Homo sapiens: one gene and its partners. The protein of the gene in region 4 purifies or fractionates together with the protein of the main gene of each other region. This does not show direct contact. Each region holds a gene or a part of one and is shown on either strand. Other genes may lie near its edges.

The links. The genes of interacting proteins can lie anywhere in the genome.
Region 1: the proteins of ZNF644 (region 4) and RLF purify together in Homo sapiens (affinity purification with mass spectrometry, with the first as the bait; one large-scale study listed by BioGRID). This does not show direct contact.
Region 2: the proteins of ZNF644 (region 4) and ACVR1B purify together in Homo sapiens (affinity purification with mass spectrometry; one large-scale study listed by BioGRID and IntAct). This does not show direct contact.
Region 3: the proteins of ZNF644 (region 4) and ZNF280D purify together in Homo sapiens (affinity purification with mass spectrometry, with the first as the bait; one large-scale study listed by BioGRID). This does not show direct contact.

What each region holds. Positions count from the first base shown.
Region 1 is NC_000001.11:40,199,170-40,203,258, forward strand, and holds part of RLF (zinc finger protein Rlf), read left to right. Parts: intron 1-2,758; exon of another isoform or gene 2,759-2,847; intron 2,848-3,242; coding exon 3,243-3,445; intron 3,446-4,089. UniProt on the Homo sapiens protein: May be involved in transcriptional regulation.
Region 2 is NC_000012.12:51,978,982-51,983,070, reverse strand, and holds part of ACVR1B (activin receptor type-1B isoform a precursor), read right to left. Parts: intron 2,103-4,089; coding exon 1,872-2,102; intron 386-1,871; coding exon of another isoform or gene 263-385; intron 1-262. UniProt on the Homo sapiens protein: Transmembrane serine/threonine kinase activin type-1 receptor forming an activin receptor complex with activin receptor type-2 (ACVR2A or ACVR2B).
Region 3 is NC_000015.10:56,723,138-56,727,226, reverse strand, and holds part of ZNF280D (zinc finger protein 280D), read left to right. Parts: intron 1-4,089. UniProt on the Homo sapiens protein: May function as a transcription factor.
Region 4 is NC_000001.11:90,917,693-90,921,397, reverse strand, and holds part of ZNF644 (zinc finger protein 644), read left to right. Parts: intron 1-3,243; coding exon 3,244-3,346; intron 3,347-3,705.

The DNA of each region.
Region 1 (4,089 bases), about 51 Mb from region 4:
AGGTGACGTTAAAATGTTTTTGATTGGAGAGTGATGACCCTTCAGTTGCTAAGTGCATGGTTTAATTAAACATCCGTAATATACAAGCCCTTGTGCTTAGTGCTGTAGGGAATACAAAGGCTAACAAGACATGATATTTGTTCACAAATTGCTGACAGTGTAATAAAGGAGATATCAGAGACAATAGTAAGTACTATTAAACATTTACTCCGTGTTTGGCCTTGTGGTGAGTCTTATCTGCATTTCTAGTATTTCTTTAATTTGTTCATCCATGTGAGATGGGTATAACCTTTTTACAGATGAAGAAACTTGAGTCTCAGAGAGGTCAGTTAATTTGTCCAAGGGTCTCACAGCTGTGTGTCAGAATCAGGTTTCAACATCAGATCAGTGATTCTAAAACCTGAAATGTTAACGTTTGTACACTATAATCCCTTATCACTGTTCTTCGAGAAAACTAAATGTGGGGAAAGAAGTAAAATGCTGTGGGAATTTGCAAGGCGATAGGTTGTGTAGGTAATATGCCTGTTATCAGGTATGTTGCTTCCTGTTGGATTTGCAGAATTGCTTACAACCTCATATGGCAGGTAAATAGAGCAGAATCTGATGTTAGGCAGGCAGAATAGGATATAGGGGAGACGTGACAGGAAATAATAGGCATGATTTAGATTGGAGATAATTAGAAAAGAATTACTAGGACATAATAACTAAGTTGATTTCCTTGAGGAAAGGAAGTATCAAGGAAAGATAATTCCAAAATTTTATTGTTGTATAATTGAGAGAATATCATTGCTGAAAATAGAAGTAGGGAATAAGGAGCTATGTGAGTGAAGGGTATGACCGTGAGTTCATCTTGTGGAATTTAGTAACTGTGGGACTAAAATGGAAAAGTCCAAGTGATTGTGACCTGTTTTCCCTCCATGCTTTTTGACCTTGACTACATATTAGAGTATCTATGGAATTTAAAACCAAAAAACATACATCCCAAGGTCCAGACTCCACTTGCTAAATCATAATCTCCAGAGTTGGAGCTCTGGAATCCAGAACTTTTTGAAGTGCCTTAGGAAATGGGCACTTACATATTGCTGATGGGAATATAAATTGGTACAATTTTTGGAGAGCAGTTTGGCAGTATGAGTCAGTATTACAAATGAACAGAGCCTTTAATTTAGCAATTCCGCATCTAGGAATTTGTTGTGTAGATTTATTCACATGTTTCAGATTACCTGTATATAGGGTTGTAAGTTGCAGCATTATTGATGATTGACAGAGATTGGAAACAGCCTGCAAGTGTATCAGTAGGGGATTGGTTAAATAAATTATAGCACATCCATACCACATAATGCTATTCAGTTGTTAAAAATAAGAAGATAGCTCTAACTGCACAGATGATAGAATAACCTGTATCATATATTAAGTGGCAAAAGAAAATGTCTTCCATACTCATAGAATATTTCTGGAAGGATAAACAAGAAATTGGAAACTTGTTGTTTCTCAGGGTGGGAAACCAGAGCACTGGGGTCAGGGTAGGAGGGAGAAAAACTTTAACTGTATAGCTTTTTCTGTCCTTTTGAAATCTGTGATTATATATATATATATGTTTTTCTTTATATTATTTTAAAGGATAATGTTACGATTGATTCTCATATGTAGTTAAAATTGGGCCAGTGGTTTATCCTTAGTATAAACCATTGCTACTCTACACACACACACACACACACACACACACACACACACACACACACACACACACACACACACACACACACACACTGGTTTATCCTTAGTATAAACCATTGCTACTCTACACACACACACCCCAGTGGTTTATCCTTAGTATAAACCATTGCTACTCTACACACACAAACACACACACCCCCCCCACACCTCACACACACACACACCCCCCCCCCCCCCCCCGCAACCTGGGAGCTTGTGAGAAAAGCAAAATTTCAGGTCCCAGACCTAATAAATCAGAATCTGCATTTTAATAAGCTCCCTAGGTGATCTAGGCACTTTCAAGTCTGAGAGATACTGTTTTAGATTAACCACCTAAAGCAGTTTGTTTACTCACCACTTGGCTTGACATGCAATATTCTCACCTCTATTCTTTAAGTAATACTATGTAGTGATGTCACATACTTGTTGGATATTTACTATTCAAAAATTGAGGGCTCGGCCGGGTGCGGTGGCTCATGCCTGTAATCCCAGCACTTTGGGAGGCCAAGGCGGGTGGATCATGAGGTCAGGAGATCGAGACCATCCTGGCTAACAACGGTGAAACCCCGTCTCTACTAAAAATACAATAAATTAGCCGGGCATGGTGGCGGGCACCTGTAGTCCCAGCTACTCGGGAGGCTGAGGCAGGAGAATGGCGTGAACCCGGGAGGCGGAGCTTGCAGTGAGCCAAGATCGCGCCACGGCACTCCAGCCTGGGTGACAGAGCAAGACTTCATCTCAAAAAAAAAAAAAAAAAAAAAATTTGAGGGCTCATCCAGAGCACTGTACAGTCAATGCCAAGTGCCTAATATTCAGTACAGCTCAGAAGTACTGAGCTTCAGTACTTCTGAAGCTTTCAGAGTAGCATTTTCCAAAGTGTGTACTGAACCAGGAACACATGTTTTACAGGTTACTAATATGTATAAAAGGGTTCTCTGGTCAAATCAGTTTAGGAAACATTGGGTTTTTAAATAAAAGTGAACAGTTTTCTTTATTGCAGGACTGTTCAGAGATTTGACCAAGGAATCCTTTTTTTTTCTAGGACTATCTCTCAGGTCTTTTGGTCGGTGGAACACACTTTGAGAAATGCCTGGTTTAGAGGAAAGAGCACCACTGGCTTTGGAATCCTTGGCAAGTTACCTAACTTCTGTGAATATTAATTTTCCTAACCTTAGACTGGGGATAATAATACTTGCCTTGGTGGTGGTGTGAAGAATAAATGAGAGGTATATAAAAATATGCAGCTTAAAACTTGATGTCTCGTAAGCATTCAGTTGATAGTTGTTAATATTACATAGGTTACTTGCTTCATTTCTTGCATTTATGCTTATAGTTCATTTCACTATTTCTTAATTTTCCTCTCATCTCTATTAGATGAATATTGAGACCAGAGTAAACTTCTCATTTATATAAACTAAATTTTTATTAACTAAAAATCAAATAAAAAGATCTCAAACTTTCATCTTAGCAAGTCTGACATGTTATGTGGTATGTTGTCAAACTGTTTTATTTTTCATTTTTTCTAGTCAATAAATTGATTGCACAAGAAGGACCTTCCTTTCTGCAAATGCGAATAAAACATTTGTTGAAATCTAACTGCATCCCCCAGGCTACTGCTTTATCAAAACTATGTGCAGAATCTAAAGAAATTTCAAATGTGTCATCTTTTCAGCAAGCCTATATCACATGTTTATGTTCTATGCTCCCTAATGAAGATGCTATTAAGGAGGTGAGTAAATAATTGTTGTCATTCAAACTTGGTATTAATTTAATAGATTTATATATATATTGCATGGTTTATTTTTTCCCTTTAGAATGAAAACCAAGATTCATTTTTTTCAGGCTACCAAAATGTATGATTTTAATTGTATATTTAACTGCTCGACAGATAGAATGTAATATTTTAGAGTGAATTTGAAAAGTAGATAACTAAAGAATATACAGAGGCATGTTTACTTATTTGGGTGATGATTTGCTGTGAAATCTTTAAATGTGAAAGTTGTTTTTTCTTTTTAAAGTAATGACGTCTCCATGTTTGGGGAATGCAGAAGTTGTTAATCATGGCATCAAGGGATAAACTAAAGAAAATGGCACTTAATTTTAGCTTAAGTTACTTTATATATTTAATTTTGTAAGCAGAAAAGTATAGGACTCTAGATTCCATGACTACATCCTGAACAATTAAGTGGCCAAACTGGATATCATGGAAAATAAGGGTTGAGTCTTTTTTTTTTTTTTTTTTTTTTTGAGACAAGGTCTTGCTCTGTCACCCAGGCAGGAGTGCAGTGGTGCAATTTCGGCTCACTGCAGCCTCTGCCTCCCGGGTTCAAGTGATTCTTGTGCCTCAGCCTCCCAAGTAGCTGGGACTAAAGG
Region 2 (4,089 bases), on a different chromosome or scaffold from region 4:
AGGTGGGTTTTGAAAGCCAGATCCCTACTCACACAAGCTGCCAGAATCAATAAAGGGATGGATCCTGGAAACACACACATCTTGGCTTCTCTTATCACAAACAAGGGGCCCACCCAACACACTGCTTCTCGCACTCTAACCAGCCCCAAAGTCCTGAGGACCCTGCTAACAAGTTCAAAGAGAAGACATGATTTGATCCTTTTAAAACATATAAGATTTAAATTTTATCAAAAGGTGATAGTTTTAAAAAGGAATAGCTTACTCAGTGGGAATAAAAATCTTGCTCTTCCCCTTCCTCCCTTGTATTGGAGTCTAAGGCTCCTCAGCTTGGGGGCAGCAGAGACCATTACAACTTCCCATGGCAATGTGAGGAATGAGCAGTCTGCTGTTGTTTCAGGAATGAAAAACAAATAGCATCTTCTGTAGGCTTTGTAGACACTAACTTCTAAATTGCACCATGCCACAGGAGCAAGTCATGTCACAACTGCTAGAGAGACCCTTCCACAATGTGAACCAGCCACTCACAGCATCCTCTCTGTGCTCCGGGTGCCACTACCTGTCCACGTGTCTGTCCCCTTCTTCCTGGGAGCTCTGTGAGGGGAGGGACTGTGTCTTGCTCTTATGTGTGATGGTCCAAGCAGCCAGCAGAGGTCTGGCCCACAGCAGTCAATAAATGTTATAGAATTAATGAATGAAATTTTAATTACTACCCACTATCTTCAGAATGGAATACAATCCTCTCAAAAAGGCCCCTCATAATCTGGCCTCTGCCTCCCTCTCCACCCACAGCCATCCAAGTTACTTGCTGGGCCCCAAACCTCACCTTTGCACATGTCTGCAGTGCTCTTCCCTGCAAGGAAGATTTTTCTTCCTGACCAGTTCTTGCCACCTTTGTCTCAACTGGGCTCAGGTGCGAGTCAGCCCCAATTTGTGCTCAACAGAACAACTCGTGTTTACCTCCTCTAATCACCCTTACTCGTCATCCTTTGCTAGTCAATGAGGTCCTCAAACATAGGGAGGTGCCTGGCACATAAGAGATTCAAAAACTAAAGCAATAAAAGGGAGAGGAAGAAGGAAAGAATCCTCAGGGACAGGACTGACCAAGAGCAGAGTCCGAAGGCGACACTTCGTGGACTACAGGCTTTTCTGTCGTTATCCTCCTTGCCAGGGTTGAGGCCGCAATTCCTCATCCTAGGGATTTTTTTTTTCTTTTTTTTTTTTTGAGACGGAGTCTCGCTCTGTCGCCCAGGCTGGAGTGCAGTGGCGCGACCTCAGCTCACTGCAACCTCCAGCTCACTGCAACCTCCGCCTCCTGGGTTCAAGCAATTCTCCTGCCTCAGCCTCCTGAATAGCTGGGATTACAGGTAGGTGTCACCGTGGCCAGCTCATTTTTGTATTTTTAGTAGAGATGGGGTTTTGCCATGTTGGCCAGGCTGGTCACAAACTCCTGACCTCAAGTGATCTGCCTGCCTCGGCCTCCCAAAGTGCTGGCATTACATGCGTGAGCCACCGCGCCCAGCCCATCCTAGTGATTTTCAAAATAAGCTTACGGGACCCCCTGCAGGAACTACAATGGAGGTGGGTTTGGGGGAGTGGAGAAAGAGAAATTGAGCAGGTAGGGTGAGGGGGTGTATCTTGTTTATCTGAGTAAGAACTGCTTGTTTATTTGCTTGATAACCTGGATTTTTGTATAACCTTTTCATGGAATAAAAGGCTCCACACTTTAAGGAAAGCATGGAAACCTTGACCTTACTCAAGTTTTCTTTCTACGGGTTACAATGATGAAGGCAAACAGAGCTGTGCACCCCATAGCTATGCACTTTCTCTAGCATCCTCTATCTGGGAATGCTGTATCCAAGCCCAGCCCTTACCTTTATTGTCAGCAGCAATAAATCCAAGGATGTTTTCATGGCGCAGCATGACCGTCTGGTATATCTCTGCTTCCCTGAACCAAGACCGTTCTTCACGAGAAGAGAATATTTTCACAGCCACATCACCACCCCTCCAGCGGCCCCGCCATACTTCCCCAAACCGACCCTTGCCAATAATCTCTTGTAAAACGATGGTTCGGGCCACTGTGCGCTGGACAAAGAGGGGTAACCCTGTGAACCAAAGAATAGGAAGAAACCTGACATTGCAAATTTGACAAATTTTCCAACTCCCACACTAATTGGCACAACGGAAACACCCTTAACATGGTGTCTTCATCCTACGCTGTCCATTAACCATGGAGAGCTGCTGCTGCCCATACACATTTCTAGGTAATCTACCAGAGGGCTGAGCCAGGCGGAGAGATGGGGAAAGAGTGAACACAAACAGGAAACGTGTATGATTAGCTACTCCTTATCTAGGCAATTTCTCCTCTCAGTAAGCACGGATGATAGATTTGAATGTAAATGTTTGACCAGATTTACCAACTCTTCAGCCAGCCACCTGTGGGCCGATCCACCCACATCTGCTTTATTTTGGTGGAGGAAGGAAAGAGGGCAGAGAACATGAAAGTGTGGGCTCATGTGCTGGGGGCCACCTTCTGGCTGTTCTGCTTATTAGCCACTAGAGGGCAGTGCTGTGCGGCCCATGGGTTCCCATCTCCAAAGAGAGCAATGCTCTGCTCACAAGCGAACTCCAGATGTAGAATGGAGGACCATCTATGTTTAGTCTAAGATTAACTTTACTGTCTTTATAAAACTCAACATTGCTTCATTTGACTCATTCAATGTATCTCTATATATCCAATCACCCTTACCATCACAAGTGACTCTTAACTGTCTTACTCCCACCCCCAATCAAATAATTAATACATTATTAATCCCTAGGTCTGGTAGATGGGAACTACCATTTACTGCATGCTTACTATGTATTAGGCTCCATGCTAAGGGCTTTACATAAATTATCTCACTTCCCCAAACCACCTGGAAGGTAAGGCGCTGTTATCATCCCCATTTTATAAACAAGAAAACTAAGGCTCAAAGAGGAGGTTATGTAATATTCAAATTCATACAAGCAGTAAGTGGCAAAGCAGGGCTTAAAATCTAGGACTGTCTGACTCTATAATCTATGCTTTTAATGACAACAGTATAGAACCACCAAAATGTTTCTCAAATTAGCCCCCGCCTCTCCATCTCCGTCCGCCTGTCCTACTTTTGGACCTTCTCTAAAAGACTTCCAACAGGTCTTTTGCCTCCCATCTCAGCCTGCTCTTGCCCTGTGCACCCACACACACCCCGCCTCACCCCACCCTTCCCAACAGAAGGCTGGTAGTGAATGAATTCATCCTCCACACCACTGCCAGAATTCCTTCCAAAGGAAAAAATGAACATTCATTTCCCACATGGAAACTTTCAGTAGAAGCCCCTTACCTAGAAGATAAAGGTCAGCCCTCAAGATCCTGTACACCTGGGGCAGCCTGACGTCCCCCTGCTTCCCCAGCACAAGCACATCATGCTGGTCTCCTCATCATAAAAGTTCTTTAAACATACAGTGGACCTTCATGCCTTTGTCTTTTTACTCAAGGTATTTTCATTGGCCTGGAATGTTCTTTGCCCTCTCGCCTCTCTTAAAAATTCCAACTCATTCTTCAAGACTCCTTTTTTTTTTTTTTTTTGAGATGGTGTCTCGCTCTGTCACCCAGGCTGGAATGCAATGGTATGATTTCGGCTCACTGCAACCTCCACCTCCTAGGTTCATGTGATTCTCCTGCCTCAGCCTTCTGAGTAGCTGGGATTACAGGTGCCCGCCACCACACCCAGATAATTTTTGTATTTTTAGTAGAGATGGGGGTTTCATCATGTTGGTCAGGCTGGTCTCGAACTCCTGACCTGAGGTGATCTACCCGCCTCGGCCTCCCAAAGTGCTGGGATTACAGGTGTGAGCCACCGTGCCTGGCCTTTTTTTTTTTTTTTTTTTTGAGACGGAGCTTTGCTCTTGCTGCCCAGGCTGGAGTGCAATGGCATGATCTGGGCTCACTGCAACCTCTGCCTCCCGGGTTCAAGCAATTCTCCTGCCTCAGCTTCCCAAGTAGCTGGAATTATAGGCGTGTGCCACTACACCCGGCTAATTTTTTGTATTTAGTAGAGACGAGGTTTCACC
Region 3 (4,089 bases), on a different chromosome or scaffold from region 4:
AAGTGCTGGGATTACAGGCATGAGCCACCACGCCCAGCCAGTTTCCTTCTTATAACAGGGAGGGAAGAGCAACTCTTTTCCCTTGAGATTGAGAGTCAAGGCAGAGATGAGTTTGTATAAACAAATTTTACTAAAATAACCGTTATTTTCCATTAGTTCTCCCATTTTTTCTAGTCACTTTCCCATGGTTTATTGTCCCTGAAATTCCAAGTTCCCTTTTTTGGGGGGGTTAAAATAGTATAAAAGCCTCTACGTCTAACCACTTGTTTGAGTTTCACTTCTTTTCTGTGAACTCCTGTGCATGTCAATATTAATAAAAATTGTATGCTTCTTCTCTTGTGAATCTGTCTTTTCATAGTTTAATTCACAGGCCATGAGATACTGAACCAAAGGTGATAGAGGAATTGTTTTCCCTCTCTGACATAGACTACAAAAATGTCTTCAGTTTTCCATATGTCTTTGAAAATTGATGCAATATTTTTGCAAAACTATAAGAAAACTGGAAAATAAATGAGAACAATTAAGGCTAATGCATTAGTCATGATTTATTTCACTGTTGTATTATTCTTTTAGGCAGTCCTATTATTTTTTTAGCATAGTTGGGATTAATTGATGAACAATGGTGAAATAATACCTAGAATGATGGAGTTAGCAAAATATTTCAAGATGTAGGAAAAATAAAGCCACTAACATCCCATAATGTATTTTAGATTGATAAAAGGATTCTGTTATAGACCCACATAATAATTATAAGATATAATGAGTTTTAATCTATTTTAAAGTAGTAAGTAAATTTTCCCTTCTTTGTTTAAAGATCTCTAGGAAACAATGTGAATAATGTCAGTCTTTCTAAAAAGAACTGCTCAAGAAAGAAAGTAAAAAACTAGTTTCCTTTGGACTCTGATAGTATACTGGACTTTAATGGTTAATTTGGACAGTTAGAGTTCCACCCCTCTCCAATACACACATTAAACCTACCTGCCTCTTCTACTTCCATAATAGGTTTTTTTTTTTAGCCTGTTGTACTTTAATACATCTCTAATGAATACAGGCAGTACCTAGAAAGTTGTTCCTTGAGGTTTCTGTTCTAAAGTTTTTTTGTTGTTACCAGTTTTTTTTTCTTAAACCTTTCTTCCAAGCTTTACCTTCAGAGACCCTTCATAATAAAAAATTATTAATTGGAACCCTGGCACATCAGGCCAACGTTGTATTTAGGCTTTTTGCTTAAATGGATTACACCAAAAAATATTTCAGTCATTTTCATTGCAAACATTCCTGTTTTTCTGGTTTTATATAACAGGATGAAGACAAAGTAATTTTTGGGATGATGTATGCCTTGTTTCTTTGTGTTTGTAAACACAATGCCTTACACATAATTAATGTTCGATAAATACTTAGTTTTTTTTTTTAATCACCTGAATATTCCCCAACAGTTTAAAATTATTGCTTTACTTTTTGGATTGGTATGTAACTTACAAATTTTTGACCAGCTAGCATAGTAATTTAGCTTTCTTTTTTAAAAAGGGCTTTGACTTGTGTTTATCTAGTACAGTAGTTCTCTAAATGTGGTCTTGGGCTTGAGACTCTTTGAAGGATTCTACTAGGTCCTCCCTTTACCACATACTTTTCCTGTGAAGCTGTATTTTCTTCAACAGAAGAGTGTAGTGCAACAGGTTGAATGCAGAAGGTCGTAAGAGAATCCAGCTGTCTTTATTAAGACAATGAGGTATGCAAAAATGTAGCAAAAATGTAAAACAATACCACTCTTTAAATTTTTTGTTTTGAGAAATACACTTTTTTTGTAAAAATATATTAATATGTGCTGCTTTCATTATTATCATCTTTAAGTAAATGAATACATATTGAAAAAAATTTCTCAGGTTTGGGGTTTCTGGACTCCCAGGCAAAGATTCCATCCTTAAAGTTTAGTCAACCACACATCTTTTTTTGATCAGGTTTGGGATTTTTTTTTTTAACATTATTAACTGAATGCCTTTGAGTTGATACGCATTTTGACTAGGGCTAGTAACCAAAGCAAAGATGATCAGTCTATGAACTAATTTGCCCTTTGCTTCTAGGCTTCACTCCTGTGCGTTCCTTATTTTGTGGGTTACCTTTGGCAAATCTAAGAAGCTAAGCCTGGAGGGGCTTGAGAGAGGCCTGGGGGTTTTAGGTATAATCCTAATCTCTGTCGTATCTCTTGCTTTTTTTACTTGCTCTGCTTTTCCTATTCAAGGTTTAAGATTATCTGACTCTCAGCTATACAGGATTGCTGACTGCTGCTAGAAAGGCCTTCATAACCAAAATGCAACATGGAAATAGCTTTCTTACATTCCATGAGAAAAAAAATAGATCTGACAACGTTATTGAATAGAAAAAGGTAAATAAGAAAATTGGCACTACTTCAGTGACACTACATTGTAGTGTCTGTTCATTTGAGAAGTTATACACAACAGATGTCTTTCTATTCTTTGATTTCTTTTATTGTAGTGTTTTAGAGATTATAAAGTATGTTCACAGTTACCGTATTCCATCATCAGAACAAATACTTCTTTGCAAAAGGCGGTGTTATCATCCTTTACAGATGAGGAAATCAAGTCTTAGAAAAAGTTCATTTTATTCATTGGAATAACACTGGGTGCCAGATATTGTGTATTCATTTTATAAGATACGATGCCTTGGTTTTCCCTCACTTCACCGTCAGCCTTTTTATCTCAGAATTACATGTTCTCTTCTATTTGGGCTATACAATGCAGGTGAGCCTTACAGGCAGGCAGTGACAACAACTGTTAGAAGTGTTGCCTCCTTAGAGCATTTGACCTGTTCTGCACCTCACTGCACCTGGAAGCTTTTAACACTAGGATAACCTAACCGAGCTCTGCTTAGGTTGGAAAGTTATTAAACAATTTGGAATTGGTAAATGACAGAATGAAAGCATTATTTTAGTAAATTGTTAATTTGGGGGCTCTTTATTGAAGAGATGAAAGCAAAAATCTGGATGCTGAGAGACCAAGTACAGACAGTCCCCAGCTTAAGATGGTTTAACTTAAGTTTTTTTGACTTTATGATGGTGTGACAGCAATATACATTTAGTAGAAACTGTACTTCAAGTTTTGAATTTTGATCTTTTTCCGGGCTAGTGATATGTGGTATGATACCATATTGTGATACTAGGCAGCAACAGCAAGTTGCAGCTACCAGTCAGCCACATGATCATGAGGGTAAACAACTGATAACATACAGTATACTGTGTTGTCAGATGATTTTGCCCAACCACAGGCTAATGTAAAGGGTTCTGAGCACGTTTAAGGTAAGTTAGACTAAGCTGTGATGTTCGGTAGGTTAGGTGTATTGAATGCATTTTCAACTTACGATATTTTCAGCTAATGATGGGTTTAATCATTACCCCATCACAAGCTGAAGAGCAACTATATAAAGTGAATCTTATAAAGTAAATCTATTTCACTTTAGGTGTGAGGTTCTATGGGCGTGGTCAAGTATTGAGTGGATGGAGAGGCAAGGATGGTGTGGGAAATATTTTGAAGGAAGTCTATAGGGTTGGGGAATTGACTAGATATAATTAAAAGAGGGAGACATTGAAAAAAACCTCCAGGGATTCAAGATCAGAAGGATGGCAGTTTAGTAGAAAAAGGGAAATGCAAAAGTAAAACTAACTTTTATAATTTAAGGTAAGATTCATATAATTTCACCATTTAAAAATATACGGTTCACTGGCATTTAGTACATTCATAGTGTTGTACAACTGTCAACACTAATTCCATAATATTTTCAGCTCCTCAAAAGGAAACCTGTTACCCATTATTCTGAATATTAGATATAAATAGAATCAAACTGTGTGACTGACTTCTTTCACTTTCAAAGTTTCATGTTGTAGCATGTATCAGTACTTCATTTTAAAAAATTGCTAAATAATGCTACATTGTATTGATACACCACATTTTTTTCACTTTGATTATTTATTTATTTATTTTTTTATTATTATACTTTAAGTTTTAGGGTACATGTGCACATTGTGCAGGTTAGTTACATACGTATACATGTGCCATGCTGGTGTGCTGCACCCACTAA
Region 4 (3,705 bases):
CTAACAAGTGCAAATAAAATCCTATTACAAAAAAAGGCTTTGTGTAACAGTTATCTATTTGGCAGATTATTCATATAAACAACTCTGTTAAAGCTTTGGCTGTTTATCACAGATACTGATGAGCTGCATTATATTAAAACTGAATGTGTTAGTGATCTGTATTTAATGTTCTAGTGGCTCCTGGTACAGTCCAGAACAAAACTACTTTTCCCTCTAGATATAATAAAATCTCTTAAGTGAGAATATTGGTATAACAGACATGTTTCTACCTCATCCTTTTCATTTATTGAAATTTTCTGTGTAAATCATCCTTTTATGTAGAGGATCCTATATAGATGTCCCCTTTTTGTGCAGTTTTAATATGTTAAATACTCAATTTTAAACAGATTTTCCCAAAGGTATGGGCAGTATCACAGGAGTGGGTTTGGATATTGGCATTAGAAAAACTATTGTAAAATATGTTCATGTTTCACCTGCTCAAAAATATAACATTTCAGGAGATAATAAATCTAGAATTGATGAAGATATTAAAACACTGAGGCATTTAGATTTCAATTTCCAAAGTTCCCAGATTTTTAATATTTTAACTTTGTGAATAAGTTTCTAGGGATTCTCAGTGCATGAGATTCTGTAACCTTAACTTTGGAGCCCTGGGTTCTAGAGATGATTGATCAGTCATAAGCTGGCAGAGTTGTCCTGCTTTCCAAGGTTATAATACCTTCAAATACTCATTGCTACAAAAATGATGGCATTCTCATTTCAAGTTTAGATCTGATCATTCATAAAACAGCCTAAACTTAAGAGTTTCCACAGTCCATAAAGCATCAAAAGCCATAAAATAATTCTTTTTTCCCTATTAAAGAAAAAGCCAAAAATATTTCTGTATTTTAGAATAAACATTTCCAGTTCCATTTTTAAAATATTAACAACATGTAAATTTAAATGCTTTTGTAACTGATAAAATGTTCTTTTGCATATTTCCCTACCATCCTCCTGCCCTTCTTCCTCAATTTGCTTTACACCCCTAACATTAACATTCTGTGAACAAATTTTTAAGGGTTGTTATAATGTATTCTATTTGTATCCTACAGTAATTTATTTGCATTTTAAAAGGAGTTTGAATACAGTGTGGCAATTTTGACAACCAGCAAGCTCATCAAAGTAAGATTCTACCTGTAATCTTATGATACACCAAATGCCTGCTCTATTCTGCCTAACACAGACAAGGATCCATCTTTACAGATGGAAAGAATAGCTGACATCTAGTAGCACTTACTCTTTGAGTTCCCTGAACTCTATTTCTAGTGTATGAATCACTCATAACCCACTTAAATTCAGATTGCTCACCAAAGCGATTAGGAAAAAGGTTTTTCCTACTGGGTACAAAGCATAAGGTATTTCACTCTTGTAGTTGTTGTGAATAACCTAGTTTCTGTACATAAGCTGGCTGGTCAGTGATTTATATCTAGGATAATGAAGTATGTGTGACTGCAGCAACATATTTAAACAAATGATGCACAATGTTGTACAGGAATATTACCTGTATTAAATAGGAGTAAAACATTTTCATTCATAGGCTGTCTAAATATCAATGGTTAAATTACTGAGTTTTGCTTTATTTTTACTCCAGAAGTATTTGTTGAGTTCCTACTACATGCGAGGCTCTTGACTGAGATAACTAATAAGATCCTTATAAGATTTTTCTATTCCAGAGTTTGGTTGTTTAGCTTTGAATTACCCATTCTTTAATACCTAACTTGACTTCTAGTAGTTCTTTACTTATTAGACTCTTCTTCTAAGGATAAACAGAAAAAGACTGTGTCCTAGATTTTACTTTTGAATAGGCAGGTGACAGGAAGCTGAAACCAGTGGCTTCAATGAGATTTAGGTTTCTTGTGGTTTTGAATTTTCTATATGACATTTCTGTTATCATTGCCATTTGACTAAGGAACTATGTTTACTGGTTTTGTAATAGTAGCATCTATTCTTTTGGAATCTGGACTTTGAACAATTCGTTTCACAGAGTCATTGAACAGCCAGTTCCTTCTCTCTTACTTAGAATTTTTCCAGGGAATTTTTCACATGGCAGGATAATGGAAGAAAAGCCATTTGGGTAACTCTTCTGTTACATTTGTATCCCTCCCCCCTTGGATCCCTACAGATAAATTCTTACCTTCTCTTCCTGCTAATTGACCAGCAGCACCCTGGATTGCTATCATCCCTTTGTCCAAAGAAATGGTGTAGCTGTATTCAAAGACCTATAAAATGTTATGTGCTATCTATTGCTACCTATAAAAAATACCTTTTTTTCTTTTTAAAATCAGGTTGTTTTAGAATAAATAAAGGAAAAGTCAATTAATGGAAAAATTTCAAGAACAGTTCACATAAAATTTTGGTCTATTTTAATTTTTTTTTTTACCTTTTCAAATCACATTTTAAAATAAGCAGTTGGAGAAAATGTAAAATGAAAAATATGTAAAGAATAGTTAGCATTAAACATCAGATCCAATTGTAAACTTACGTGAGATAATATGGATTTATATTTATTTTCTAGTAAAATAAAACTTATATGATTGCATAATTGATTATTGTATATGCAATACAAATTAAGTTCAAAAATGAAAGTTGAGCTTTTTTTGTCCTTTCAAATGTAGGGCCAGCATACAATTTTAAGAGCTATTTATTATAAAATTCATGGTGAATCACTATGAAAATTGATTTTTCCTTGAGCTTTTAATTACATTATCCATATTCCCTTACGAAGTTTTCCAAGTATAGAAGACCTACTTAATGGAGCAGTAATCAAATGCAAACTTAATTTAATGATCTCAAATAAAAGGTTCTACTTTTCTGGAAATAAGATTAAACCAGATATTAAAATTATGTATGATTATAAAAGTAAAGATTACCATTATTGTAATAATTGACCAATTTAGTACTTTCAAGTTATTTAGTTACATTTTCTCAGTTCTAGTTTGGTGTGGTAAAGCATTATTTGAAAAGGCAGTATAGGAAGAATACAGATAGTATTCTTCAGTACAGATAATACCGCTGTACAGTACAGATAATATTACTGCTATTACAGAATCAGCAAGTTGAATGCATGCTTCAGGGAATAGGGAAATGAATGCGGACTTTTTCTAACTGATTTAGATGGTCTGTCTGACCTCTCTAGAAAAATATGTGTGTATGTATATTTTGAAATATATAAGGAATGTTAAGTCTTTCTCTTCCCCTTTTTAGCCTTAGATTGTAAGCAAAAGAAATCAAGGTCAAGATCTGGAAGCAAGAAGAAAATGCTAACATTACCTCATGGTGCTGACGAGGTTTACATTCTCCGATGCAGGTATATGCCTATATTGCCAAATCTGATCAGTTTCTTCATACTTTGCTTTGAAACATATTAGCTATTTCATTTGGGATTTTTAATTTGTGGCAGAGTGCATTCTCAACAATCAAGTTATAAATGAACTTTTGGAGATAGGCTTAAAATCTTAATTCAGCTCACAATATCCGTACTTCAACAACTAATGAATCAAGTTTTTTACATTAGCCAATAGTAATGTAAATCTATTATACTGTGATTTATTAAAGTAGCTTGGCCAGGTGTGGTGGCTCATGCCTGTAATTCCAGCACTTTGGGTGGCCAAGATGGGTGGATCACTTGAGGCCAGGAGTTCAAGAGCAGCCTGGCCAACATGATGA